Linked DNA regions of Homo sapiens. The protein of the gene in region 1 interacts with the protein of each later gene in a pairwise test. Each region holds a gene or a part of one and is shown on either strand. Other genes may lie near its edges.

The links. The genes of interacting proteins can lie anywhere in the genome.
Region 2: the proteins of CFAP206 (region 1) and CPSF7 interact in binary tests that used the Homo sapiens proteins (3 or more experiments, as listed by UniProt).

Annotation. Positions count from the first base shown.
Region 1 is NC_000006.12:87,417,936-87,424,971, reverse strand, and holds part of CFAP206 (cilia- and flagella-associated protein 206), read right to left. Parts: intron 6,765-7,036; coding exon 6,556-6,764; intron 1-6,555. UniProt on the Homo sapiens protein: Essential for sperm motility and is involved in the regulation of the beating frequency of motile cilia on the epithelial cells of the respiratory tract. Required for the establishment of radial spokes in sperm flagella.
Region 2 is NC_000011.10:61,412,959-61,419,994, forward strand, and holds part of CPSF7 (cleavage and polyadenylation specificity factor subunit 7), read right to left. Parts: coding exon 6,991-7,036; coding exon of another isoform or gene 6,964-6,990; intron 3,562-6,963; coding exon 3,147-3,561; intron 2,827-3,146; coding exon 2,708-2,826; intron 1-2,707.

The sequences.
Region 1 (7,036 bases):
ACTGTGGAAATGTGTACTTGATTAAAACATATATGGCTATGGAATCTGCTTTTGCAGTTCAGGATATACAGGTTTGTGTGTATTTAGCTTATTGTAAAGCCCTTACCTTAAAATAAGGATTAAAATTACATTTAAATAGATCACTGAATGTTACTCTTTGTGAAACTGAACTTTTTGTATGACACAAACATTATAAATCAACACTTGGGAAACTTTAACTTTCTTAATCTATTGATACAAGGAATAAAGTATGAAAAATTAAACAGAAAAAAGTCGCATTGAAGAATGCAGAAAATCTTAAAAGTCAGAGCATTGAAAGAAAAACAATATATTTGATACAACAATCATGGTCTGAAAATAAGTTGCTAAACACTGAATTTGAAATAATTATATTTGGCCAGGCACGGTGGCTCACGCCTGTAATCCCAGCACTTTGGGAGGCTGAGGTAGGCGGATCATGAGGTCAGGAGATCGAGACCATCCTGGCTAACACGGTGAAACCCCATCTCCACTAAAAATAAAAAAATTAGCTGGGCGTGGTGGCACCTGCCTATGTCCCAGCTACTCGGGAGGCTGAGGCAGGAGAATCACTTGAACTCGGGAGGCGGAGGTTGCAGTGAGCCAAGATCGAGCCACTGCACTCCAGCTTGGGCAACAGAGCGAGACTCTGTCCCAAAAAAATAAAAAAAAATAATTATATTTATTCTTACTATGTGCTAAGCACCACATTAAATACTTACAAATACAAAAAGGGATAAGTACAAATGAGAAAATCAAAGAATAGTAAGGTAAGTAAATTGTCTAAGTATATGCAGCTAATAAGGGGTAGCAATCTTGGTGGATCCCAAACCATCTGAGCCCACAGCCCAGCTCTTAACCATTATACTGTGTTGCCCAAGATGTCACCAGAAATGGTTGTGGTGTGGGTTTATCAGTATAGCATAAAAGAATGACATCTATTTGAAGAGAAAAAGGTGCATCTGAATTCTCAGACATCTGTATGTAGCCTAATTATATGCTTTCTAGACTCTTTTAAATGACAAAAATAATTACTTCATGAGTACTATCAACTATTATCATTGTATTACAACTAACAAATTTTTATTCATAAATGTAACGTGTATCCTGTTTAATTTTACCCATACTGCTGTTTAAGCTTTACTCCTCCTCCTGCTTTATTCCTCCATACACTATTATCTATTATATCAAATAGGTCTCTTGTCTACCCTCATAGAGTTTTTTCCCCCTTGCTTGTTAAGTTTTGTTTTAGGAATCAATACGAAAATGCAGTCTTTAAAGTCTTTTAAGATTTATGCAACAGCAACAAGAAACAGGAATACATTTGCATACGTTCTCCAAAATAAAAGTTGCATTCGACATGCAATACTTATTAAAACCTACAATTAAAAATATCCTAAGGCTGGGCCGGGCGCGGTGGCTCACGCCTGTAATCCCAGCACTTTGGGAGGCGGAGGCGGGTGGATCACGAGGTCAAGAGATAAGAGACCTTCCTAGCTAACACGGTGAAACCCCATCTCTACTAAGAGTACAAAAAATTAGCCGGACGTGGTGGCGGGCGCCTGTAGTCCCAGCTACTCGAGAGGCTGAGGCAGGAGAATGGCGTGAACCCGGGAGGCGGAGCTTGCAGTGAGCGGAGATCACGCCACTGCACCCCAGCCTGGGCGACAGAGCGAGACTCCGTCTCAAAAAAAAAAAAGAAAAATAAAAAAATAAAAATAAAAAAATATTCTAAGGCTGGGCGCAGTGGCTCACGCCTGTAATCCCAGCACTTTGGGAGGCTGAGGCAGGTGGATCACTTGAGGCCAGGAGTTCGAGACCAGGCTGGCCAAGATGGTGAAACCCCGTCTCTACTAAAAATACAAAAAAATTAGCCAGGCGTGGTGGCGCGTGTCTGTAGTCCCAGCTACCAAGAAGGCTGAGGTAGAAGAATCGCTTGAACCCTGGAGACAGAGGTAAACCGAGATTGCACCACCGCACTCCAGCCTGGGTGACAGAGCGAGACCCTGTCTGAAAAAGAAAAAAAATACTCTAGACCCCTCCCCCAAGCTGTAGTTGCAGGATCCATTCAGAGTAGGCACACAGAGCTTCTTGCTTTTTTTCTAATAATGTCCTAGAAATTACTCTACTTACATTTTACTAAAAAGAATTTATTCACAATCATCTGGAGTTGTTTTTTTGTTTGTTTTGTTTTTTTTTTTTTGAGACAGAGTCTCACTCTGTGGCCCAGGCTAGAGTGCAGTGGTGCAATCTCAGCTCACTGCAGCCTCCACCCTCCGCGTTCAAGCGATTCTCCTGCCTCAGCCTCCCAAGTAGCTGGGATTACAGGTGCCTGCCACTGCACCGGGCTAATTTTTTGTATTTTTAGTAGAGACGGGGTTTCACCATCTTGGTCAGGCTGGTCTTGAACTCCTGACCTCATGATCAACCTGCCTCGGCCTCCCAAAGTGCTGGGATTACAGGCGTGAGCCACCGCACCCGGCCTTTTTTTTTTTTTTTTTTCGAGATGGAGTTTCGCTCTCGTTGTCCAAGCTGGAGTGCAATGGTGTGATCTTGGCTCATTGCAACCTCTGCCTCCCGGATTCAAGAAATTCTCCTGCCTCAGCCTCTCGAGTAGCTGGGATTACAGGCTCGCACCACCATGCCTGGCTAATTTTTTGTACTTTTAGTAGAAATGGGGTTTCACCATGTTAGCCAGGCTGGTCTTGAACTCCTGACCTCAGGTGATCCGCCTGCCTCGGCCTCCCAAAGTGCTGGGATTACAGGTGTGAGCCACCACGCCCGGCCCATCTAGAGTTTTTAATTATAATATTAGTCCTCTAAAAATGCTATCACTTAAAAAAATTTTATCATAACATTCAAATGTTTGGCAAAAGCATGTGATCCCAGCATGTTTCTTTGTCTTCTTCCCCTTCCCCCTACCTTTTAAACACTTTTTATAAGTTCCTCATACTTTCTTCCACGGACAATTTTCAACAAGTCTAGTCAAACTTATAGAAGCAGAAATTAGAATGGAATCTCTGATGTTTAATGTTCTTATTACAACAGAAATAAAATATAATAAAACAAGCACAAATTCCACCTAACTGATTTTTTTACTTGCCTTATCAAGAAAAATCAAGAAGCCCTGTGTTGTGTGTCTGTGAATGGGCCCTGCAAAAATAGCTTGGGGGGAAATAACTCTACAAAAATCTTGACTTACAGGTTTTAACAAATGTGCTGTCAAACGCAGCTCTTACTTGCACAATAACATGCAGCTTTCCCTCTTTGGTGTCTGCCTTGCACTTTAAAAGCCCATGGAAGATGGAATTTTATTCTCTCAGTTAAGAGTCAACAAAACTACGATCATCACTCCCTTTTCTTTTCTAGAATATTTCAATGTGTTCACTGCAGAAGATAAAGGCCTGATTAAAACAAAATAATTCACTATCTTACCCAGGCTATATATTGGATTTTTTTTTTCTTTTTGAGACAGTGTCTCACTCTGTCGCCCAGGCTGGAATGCAGTGGCACGATCTCAGCTCACTGCAACCTCTGTCTCCTGGGTTCAAGCGATTCTCCTGCCTCAGTCTCCTGAATAGCTGGGATTACAGGCACCCACCACTATGCCCGGCTAATTTTTGTATTTTTAGTAGAGACGGGGTTTCACCATGTTGGCCAGGCTGGTCTCGAACTTCTGACCTCAGGTGATCTGCCTGCCTCAGCCTCCCAAAGTGCTGGGATTATAGGCGTGAGCCACCACGCTCGGCCTATATTGGATTTTTAAAATGTTCACATAAACTGAAACTTTGATGAGAGAATTTTTAAAAATCAAAATTGCTACTTTAAAATTTTTAATTAGTTCAAATAATGTGACTTTAAAACGAATATTCATAGATTTTAATATAGGAAAAATCTTGGCTAATTTTAAATTGATGCAGTTTATAATCTAGAGATAATACTGATTAAACCAATATCCATTTCATAATAATCAACCTTAATTGTCACTAAGACTGATGGGGAAGGACTGAATAGTTTAAAAACAAAACAAAACAAAACAAAAAAGACTGTTTGAGCAGAGAATCAGAAAGTTAAGAAAACTCATCCTGATCCTGACTAAAGTCAGTACAAAACAGCCATAAAGAGTGCTTGGATAAGAAAATTAACTTTCTCAACAACGTGAGCAGCAAGGAGCTTGGAAATGAGATACTGTATGGAAAAATAAAAGCTCTTCAGCTTGTTCCACTAGACAAATGAAATCACAGCTGTTCAGCTAAGGCCCTAACAATGATGATGATGATAATCATAAACAACATCATCATCACTTTATTGAGCCGTTGCACCAGGCACTATGCCGCCTTATTTACATGGTGAAGACTATGAATAACCCCATTTTACAGATACGGAAACCAAGGCACAGGGAAGTTAAGCAGCTTCCTTACGGACACAGATTTAGTAAGTGGCAAAGTCATGATTAGAATTCATGTAGTCTGGTTGCAAAGACCACACTCATCATTTCTACATTTTACTCACTGTCCTCTCCAGCTGTGAGAAGTAGAACGCCAATGAGAATTTAAGACTTAGTTGGTGGATTCATGATTGCAAGCTATGAGAAGATTCTATATAATGAATGACATCTTCTGCAACATCCTTACAGTTGTGTGACAGTTTCTCAAGGTTCTTTCTTATAATATCACCTCTGAATACAGGTGACAAATGTGAATGTGAAGTTCTACTCCTGTGGACTCACATGCACTTCAAAATAAATTGATTACAAAATCCCCTTAGTAGCTGACTAGTTAACATAAGGCTGATAGCCACAAGGTAATGTAAAGGGAAATATCCACCCCAAGAGTGTGACTTGGTTTTTATTATTATTTATTTATTTATTCTTTTTAGAGATGGGGTCTTCCTTGGCTACCCAAGCTGGAGTGCAGTGGCATAGCCAAAGCTTACTGTATCCTCAAGCTCCTGGGCTCAAGCAATTCTCCTACCTTAGCCTCCCAAGTAGCTGGGATTACAGGTTAGTACCACCATGCTTGGCTAATTTTATTTTTTGTAGAGACAGGGTCTTGTAATGTTGCCCAGGCTGGTCTTGAATTCTTGGCCTCAAGCAGTTCTCTAACCTCAGCCTCCCAGCTAGGATCCTTCCTCCTGAAGACAATTAGATAGGCTAGTTGTGAGGACAACCCCTAGTTTGAATGAAGTCATGTCATCAGAACAGCTAGGTAAGGAGAGAGGACAGACCAAGTGCATCCAATAGAAGGACCAAGTCATTACAATGCAAGTTAAAAAGAAGAGGTGGTCAGAATACATCCTATTCTATCCCTCAAGAAATTAGCATTCACTCATACAAAAGACAGTTCCACTAACCGAGAATCTCATAGTTACTGGAAAACAGAGGTTGTGTAAAAGTAAACGGTGACAAGTGGGAACATAACCTGCCATCATGCAGTAATTAACAGACTGTGTTTCTTACAACCCTAGAGTGTCAAGGGGATATCCCTTAGTGAAAAGGTCCTCCAGTCCCTTTATGTAGATATCTGTTTTATATTTGTAAGATTCTGAGTAAGTTTCTATCTGACAGAAAGGTCACTGCTACTTTTTAAAAAGTTTATAACCACCACTTTACCATATTTTTCAACTCTCTAGGGATACTGTTTGGCTTGTTCATTAGATCTAAAAACACCAGATATAAAAATCTTATCTGGCTAGGTATGGTGGCTTATGCCTGTTACCCCAGCACTTTGGGAAGCTGAGGCAGGAGGATTGCTTGAGGCCAGATGTTCAAGACCAGCCTGGACAACATAGCAAGACTCCAATCTATATTTAAAAAAAAAACAAAAAAAAAAACAAACGTTTTTTTGAGTCAGGGTCAGGGTCTCCCTCTGTCAGAGTGCAGTGGTGTGATCTTGGCTCACTGCAACCTCTGCCTCCTGGGCTCAAGTGATCCTCCCACCTCAGCCTCTTGAGTAGCTGGGAATACAGGCACATGTCACTGTGCCCGGCTAAGTTTTGTACTTTTTGTAGAGATGGGGTTTTGCCATGTTGGCCAGGCTGATTTTGAACTCTTGGGCTCAAGCGATCTGTCCACCTTTGCCTCCCAAAGTGCTAGGATTACAGACATGAGCCACTCTGCCTGGCCTACAAAAAACCTTTAAAAAAATATTTTGTACCAGTTGTTACAGTGAGAACAAATAATTACACAAAAATTATTTGAAAGGCAACTACCTGCCAAACAATGTTACATACTTGCTCTGAACTAAAATAAACATAGTATTACTTACATATACACCACTGTTTAACTACAGCATGCTAACAATCATATTATCAAGTACCAATGAAAAAATACAAATTCAACTTCTACCAAAATATTTTCATTAAAATCAAAACCCAACTTTTCTGTTTCTATTTTGATTCCTAACTCTACCAAAGCAATATAAACCGAGCAGTTACTGAGGTTTTCTCCTTAATTAGTGACCTGGTTCTACCTGATGTGGCCTTATATAAAGAGATTGCATTATATAGAAAAGGTCAGGTCTTATGAACTTAACTCACCAAAATGATCTGAAGGAAGACCTCATATTGTCGTATATTATATAGCGCTTCTTTTAACATATATGGCTGAAGTTCAGCCCTCATGAGTGGGTCGTTGGCTGCCTTCTCAAGGATGGCTGTGTAGCGGTATACCTGGCTCCGGGCAGTCTCAAGCTGGTAATCAATATGCTGCATGGTGGCTGGGATTGCTACATGGAGAACAGCTGGCACTGTTTGTAAGAGTATGAAAAGGCAGCCATAAAGGAGACTAAAAACAATTAAGGAGAAGAAGCCTAGAAAGTAGTTACATTTTAAACATTAAGTTAGGGTTTTTCTCCCCAATCAAATTAGTAATAATGAGGCATGTGTTTCCTGGGTCCCACAACATAAAGAAAATCTAGGCCGGGGGTGGTGGCTCACACCTGTAATCCTAGCACTTTGGGAGGCCGAGGCGGGCGGATCACGAGGTCAAGAGATTGAGACCATCCTGGCCAACATGGTG
Region 2 (7,036 bases), on another chromosome or scaffold:
GACTATTTTGTTTTTGAGATGGGTCTTGTTTTATCATCCAGGCTGAAGAGCAGTGGTATGATCATAGCTCACTGCATCCTTGAACTCCTGGGCTCAAGCCATCCTCCTGCATGCCACTTCACCTGGCTTATTTTTCAAAAATTTTTTGTAGAGATGGGGTCTCACTATGTTGACCAGGCTGGTCTTGAATTCCTGGCCTCAAGTGATCCTCCTGCCTGGGCCTCCTAAAGTGCTGGGATTATAGGTATGAGCCACTGTACCTCATGAGACTTTCTAAATAATGTGTATTTCTACAAGTTATTTTTAACCTACCATCAGATGTATGTGTGTATATATATGATATTTACATAAAACATGTATGCGTAGTATATGTATACATTAAAAAAATTATGGCTGGATGCAGTGGCTCACACTTGTAATCCCAGCACTTTGGGAGGCCGAGGTGGGCGGATCACTTGAAGCCAGAGTTCGAGACCAGCCTGGCCAAAATGGTGAAACCCGGTCTCTACTAAAAATACAAAAACTAGCTAGGCAGTGTGGCATGCACCTGTAATGCCAGTTATTTGGGGGGCTGAGGCAGGAGAATTGCTTAAATCTGGGAGGGAGAGGTTGCAGTGAGTCGGGATCAGACCACTGCACTACTCCAGCTTGGGCAATAGAGCCAGACTTCGTCTCAAAAAAAAAAAAAAAAAATTTATGCTGTCATAAAAAACTAGGCCTTTCATTTCCCAACTCTGAGTAATGCCTGGCTCAGGGATAGTGGTCATGGGGCGGGTACCTACACTTTGCTTTTCCAAGCTAAGTCAAGAGCATTAAGGACAAAAGTTAATACAAAGAAAATATGAATTCAGGCAGGGGTCCAGTGAAAATGAAGCCTGGCAGCTTCCTCTGTGCAAGGCAACAAGAACAGAAACTATGGAGAAACTGTCCAGTGGAGGCACAAGAATATGAAGACATCAGCTCCATCCTGGCAGGGAATTTTTGCCTGTTTTTGTAGTATCTTCAATAAGTATTTGTGGTTTGAATGACTGGAATGAGAACAACAGGAGATCAAGATTCAGTTATTGATCATCTTAGTGTGAAAGGGTTGATGAGGAAGAAGGAACAATGAGTACTTTCTTTATACTGTTCTGTGTATTTAACCCATATAACCCATGGGTATATATTACTTTTTAATTTAAAAAGACTAATTTTTTTTTTTTTTTTTTTGAGACACAGTTTCACTCTGTTACCCAGGCTGGAGTGCAGTGGCACAATCTCGGCTCACCACAACCTCCACGCCCTGGGTTCAAGCAATTCTCAATTCTCGTGCCTCAGCCTCCCAAGTAGCTGGGTCTATAGGCATGTGCCACCATGCCTGGCTTATTTTTGTATTATTAGTAGAGATGGGGTTTTGCCATGCTGGTCTCAAACTCCTGACCTCAAGTGATTTACCGGCCTTGGCCTCCCAAAGTGCTGGGACTACAGGCATGAGCCACTGCACCTGGCCTAAAAAAGACTAATTTAGATGTCAATGTAGATTTTTCTGGTGGGAAAAAAATGAAGGGAACATATGTACTTTCTGTCTTTAACCTTCTCTGTGGATTCAAGTTTGGCAAGATGATGCAAAGATGAAAACTGATGGAAAGCAGATGATAATATTTAGGGCTAACTTATTTCTTAGGAGATCTGATAATCTACAGACATTTACATTCATGTAGGAAACTCACAGGAAGGAAGTGAATATGGCTAATGTCACGATGTGAAAACCGGACCAGAACTCTGAAACTTCCTGTAGCCTCTTCTTTTAGAAACTAAAGATCTTATGCTCAGGGCTTTCAGAATCATGGCTGCTGGTTCTACCCACTTAATAATGAGAGCAGGGCAAAAGTTAGCTGTAAGGGCATAACATGCCTTAAGATGACATCTACAGACTTGCCTCTTTTTAGGATAGGCTACCTACCAGCTCTGCTTAGACTCCTAAATGTAATCAGATTTCATAGCAAACCATTATCTAGGCTGGACGTGGTGGCTCACACCTGTAATCCTAGCACTTTGGGAGGCCGAGACAGGCGGATCACTTGTGGTCAGGAGTTCAAGACCATCCTGGCCAATATGATGAAACCCTGTCTCTACAAAAAAATACAAAAATTAGCCGGGCGTGGTGGCAAGTGCCTGTAATCCCAGCTACTTGGGAGGCTGAGGCAGGAGAATCGCTTGAAACCAGGAGGTGGAGGCTGTAGTGAGCCAAGATTGCACCACTGCACTCCAGCCTGGGCGACAGGGCAAGACTCCCTCTCAAAACAAACAAACAAAAAAACACATTATCCAGTCAAAACATCATTCCTAAAGAAGACCCAGGGTCTATATCTGGTATTGGGTCTACTACACAGACACTAGATCTAAAGATCAACCACTGAGATGGAGATTTCCACAAGGCAGGAATTTCACTCTACAGCAAACACCACATCGAGATGGTATTAATTATTTATATTCTAGGCATTAAGTTGGTTTTCATGAGGGCAGGCCTAGATACAGACTAAGTAATACTGCCGGAGCTTCCCCAAGGCCAAGAAATCAGGTTACATATTGCTCTTCAAAGTATGCCGCTCTTGATATCTACAGTACTCCAACTTTATCTTGTTGAACTTTTGCCAGTAGAAATGACAAAATCAGGAAAAAAAAGTAAAGGTTAAGGAGAAGGCAGCAAAGGTAAGCACTGAGTTACCTGCACTGGCTCCAGATACTGCTTTGGAAATGGCACTGCTGGAAATTGCTCTGTTTCGCTTCATGATATCTTCAAATTCGGCTTCACTCACTGTAGAGGGTGGAGGGCCCGAATCTCGGCTGTACAGAGAAAATACCATCCTTGATTGCTCACATCCCTTATTATTTTTACTGTACTCTACAACACTTTGGTAATTTTGGCATAACACAGAACAATGCTAGACATCTGTAGCATTCATAACACCTGCTCCCGCATTTAATTAAGCACCTTAAAAAGGGGTATAAAGGACATGGTACTACTTCCCAGGAGTCAATGCTATGATAACAGAATGTCTATAAGGGAAAGAACAAGGATTCAGTGCTCACTTTCTCAGGGAGAATAAAATGCTTAATACACTTATTTACCCTGGCTCAAATCTGAAAGGAACAATAGTCCTTACCTGCCATGGTGGTTATAGGGGGCAGAGGCCTTCATGTAAGTATCTGGTGGAGGCCCCACTGTAGCGTTTGGTGGGGGGAAGAAGGCTGGATTGAGGTGAAGGGCAGGTGGGATGGCCCCAGGGGGAGGTACAGCAAGATGAGGAGGTAATCGAGGAGGTGGGGGCATGAGATGCTGGTAGTGGATACCAGGAGGAGGAGGAGGGACCCCAAAGCTTGAGGAGAGAGGTGGTGGGGGTGGAATTGGTGGTGGGGGCAGACCCATCAGGGGAAGGGCCGAAGGAGGACGATTGAAGTAGGGCAGCACACTGGGGGGCTTATCCACACGAGCAGATGAGGGTACAAGGTTCTCAGAGGGTGTGGCCCGTCCATCAGCAGAATCACTAGAATCTCGGGAATGGGCCCGTGGAGGTATTCCTATGAAGCAAAACAGAACTGATGTTACTGCCCAGGCTTTACACAAACCCACAGGACCAGTTCATCCTTCAGAAGTTATCAGACACCCTACAAAGGAAGGTGACTAAAGAGGCTGAGAAGGTAAAATCATCTACTGCCTTTTTTTTGGCTTCAGAGGTCAGAAGCAACTCAGTGAAGACATTAAATCCAAAAAACAATATCGTCCTAAATCCTGTCAAAGAATGTTTTCCATCCATAACTCCAGAAGTGCTTCAGAACAGATTTAATTTATCCTTATATGTATCTTCTATTTTTAAATGTAGAAGGATCCTGATAGCCCACGAGAAAATGACAGTGTTCACTGATGTTCAGGTGAATTGCAGTTGACTTGAAACCCCACATCTCCTGAAGAGTTCAGGACCTCTCTCCTTAAACTAATACTAGTTAACCTCTTCCTGTTGCACACTTAAAATGTTCTCTTTGCCACAGGGTGTTGGCTAGGGAATTTAAGGGAAGAGAGGGAGTGGCAGGAACTGGATGGCACTTCTATTTACATACTAAAACTAGTAATCAGGGTGAGAAAGAGACACACATGAAGACTAGACAACTGGAGGTTAAGTGAAAGATAAGAAAAATTGGGAGATACGCCAATAAAAGATCCGCCCACAGCACAAGCAGATAGCACACAGCTGACAGTAAGGATGCTTAGCAAAAGCTTGCTACAAAACATGTCTCCAATCTGGGGAACTCCCGCTACATTTCAATGGCCAAAATCCTCTACCCTTCAGGGCAGCCTAACAGGAACACCATCACCACATGCTAGTATGGTGCTGTGCACAACAGGAGCTCAGAACATGTTTTAAACAGCTGGAAGCATGGATTCTGACATTGTCAAGTCACTTGGTTAAACTTGTTCCTTCTCTCCAGTTTAACAGTCTAAGCCTGTTTATTGTGGAATCCAATAGAAGAACAAGATCACATGGCTTTGGGGGGGTCTTGGAGATAGAAAGATGCCACTGGCAGCAAGTGTGGAGGAAAGAGTGCTCCTTAAACTAGAATATGATAGTTAATCCCAGCTCCTGAGTAAAGCCTAAGGTGGAATCAATTATGTTGACAACCACCTAGATTTCTCTTACAGAACAGTGCCAGTGCTGTCTTGTTCTTCAGGTCTCAAACACATGGCAACTGGCTCTTTCCTAGAGTTCTCTCAAACTGAAGAACAAAAAGGTATAAGGCAAGTGTCATCTGACAGTTAACCACTTTCCCAGCTACTACTGTTGTCACATCTGCAAAGGTTGTTTTGTATCTATGGCTACAAGTCCCAAAAGACGCAACATTTCTATGCAGAGGAAGTCCACCAGCTTTACTTAGTGAATTAACAGAGCCCAGGTCCATCAGCATGACAGAGCAGAAAAACAGCACTCAGTTACACAATCTTTTCAGCAAAAAAAAGTAACATGAAAAGTAGCTGAGTAGAAGTAGAACGTTACCCCCAATACAGTTGTAAAATTACATACCTAAGGAAAGTCAGGGGTGAATTACAGAAAGACTCCAAAACAGAGGGGACTTGAAAATACAACTTGTCAAGGAAGAAGAGTGTGTCCTTTCTAACATGGAACAACAAGAGTTCACACCAAATCTATCTAGGCTGTCAATCTAGTTAAAAGAACAGCTGTTCCTATGCAAGAGCAAAGTGGTCCTATTTCTACCTGGAGGATACACCCAATCAATACAAGGCACTATTTTGAGAGCTGGACCTAAGCAGTGACAGAACATCAGTGATGAAACTTTGCTGTTCCTCCCACTGTAGCAAAAGAAAATAAGGGTGGTTGGCTGTCTCAGGGAAGGTCTTGCAGGGTGGCTGCACTTTATGAGGTCAGGAAAATCCAAGGTCTAGTCCTCAGGTTTCTCAGGTTCAGAAACTTGCTTCAACTGGGGTGACTAGGCCCTAGGAGACTGATTCATGCTAACCAAACTCACAAGAGACTGATTCATAAACCATAACACCAATTTATTAATTTACAATGAGAAATGTAATTGCCAAGCAGACCAGAATACTTGTGTCGGCTGGTCAGCGAATTCTCTTCCTAGTAGGAGACCCTAATTGGGAAACCAAATTAGCATCAGAAAGTGGCTTAGTGAGTACAGTCAGAATAAAGAGAGTAAGATGGACATTGGGGAAACTGTCCTCAAACTAAGGTAGTTCTGAGGTAACTTTCTTTTTTCTTTTTTTTTTTTGAGACAGAGTCTCACTCTGTCACCCAGGCTGGAAGGCAGTGGTGCAATCTCAGGTCACTGCAACCTCCACCTCCTGGATTCAAGAGATTCACCTGCCTCAGACTCCCGAGTAGCTGAGATTATAAGCATGTGCCACCATAACTGGTTAAGTTTTGTATTTTTAGTAAAGACAGGGTTTTGCCATGTTGCCCAGGCTGGTCTCGAACTCCTGACCTCAGGTATCTGCCCGCCTCAGCCTTCCAAAGCACTGGGATTACAGGTGTGAGCCACCATGCCCAGCCCCTAACTTTTTTATTTTCCCTCCAAGATGGAGTCTTGCTCTGTTGCCCAGGCTGGAGTGCAGTGGTCTGATCTCAGCTCACAGCAACCTCCGTCTCCCGGGGTCAAGCAATTCTCCTGCCTCAGTCTCCCGTGTAGCTGGGATTACAGGCATGTGTCACCCACACCCGGCTAATTTTTGTATTCTTAGTAGAGATGGGGTTTCACCATGTTGGCCAGGCTGGTCTCAAACTCTTGACCTCGTGATCCACCCACCTCGGCCTCTCAAAGTGCTGGGATTATAGGCGTGAGCCACCGCGCCCGGCCTGTAACTTTCTTTACTAATGGGATATAACTGCCAAGCAGACTAAAACATTTGGTAATCAAAAGAGCACCCTCTCCCCTGGACAATGCTGGAGAAATATTGTTCAAGTCTTATTCTCCAACACTCCTCTTGGTTGATTCCTTACAGTATCCTTCCAATCAACGTTTATGAAAAGATTATAGGCACCTTTTAGTTACATTTTAGGGTGGCTGCTTCTTGATAATTTATAGAGAGGCATGTCTTAAAAATTAAGCCCATTCACCTAATGCCAAGTTTTAGACAGAAACACAGAATTTAGAGGTGATGGAACTTTAAACATCATGTCACTAGTCCAGATGGGGAAACAGGCCCTAAGTAGTAAAGTGACTTGGCCAAGGTCACACGAGTCAGTGGCAGAACCAAACTACAACCTGAACCTACTTGACTCCCAGCACAATGCTCTTTCTTCTATATAGACCTATTCTGAGGACTACTTGTCGACCATGACACCACTCACAACCACCATCACCCTCCCCCAAACTCACCCACACTGTAGGCTAAGCCTACACCATAGAAAACAAACCCACAAACACCCCCCCCTCATACAGATGGTCTCCACGTACCCCCTCTTGGGACTCGGACACACTCACGTTTCCGAGCCTGTGCCTCAAACTGTGACAGGTTCTGCCGGGTGGC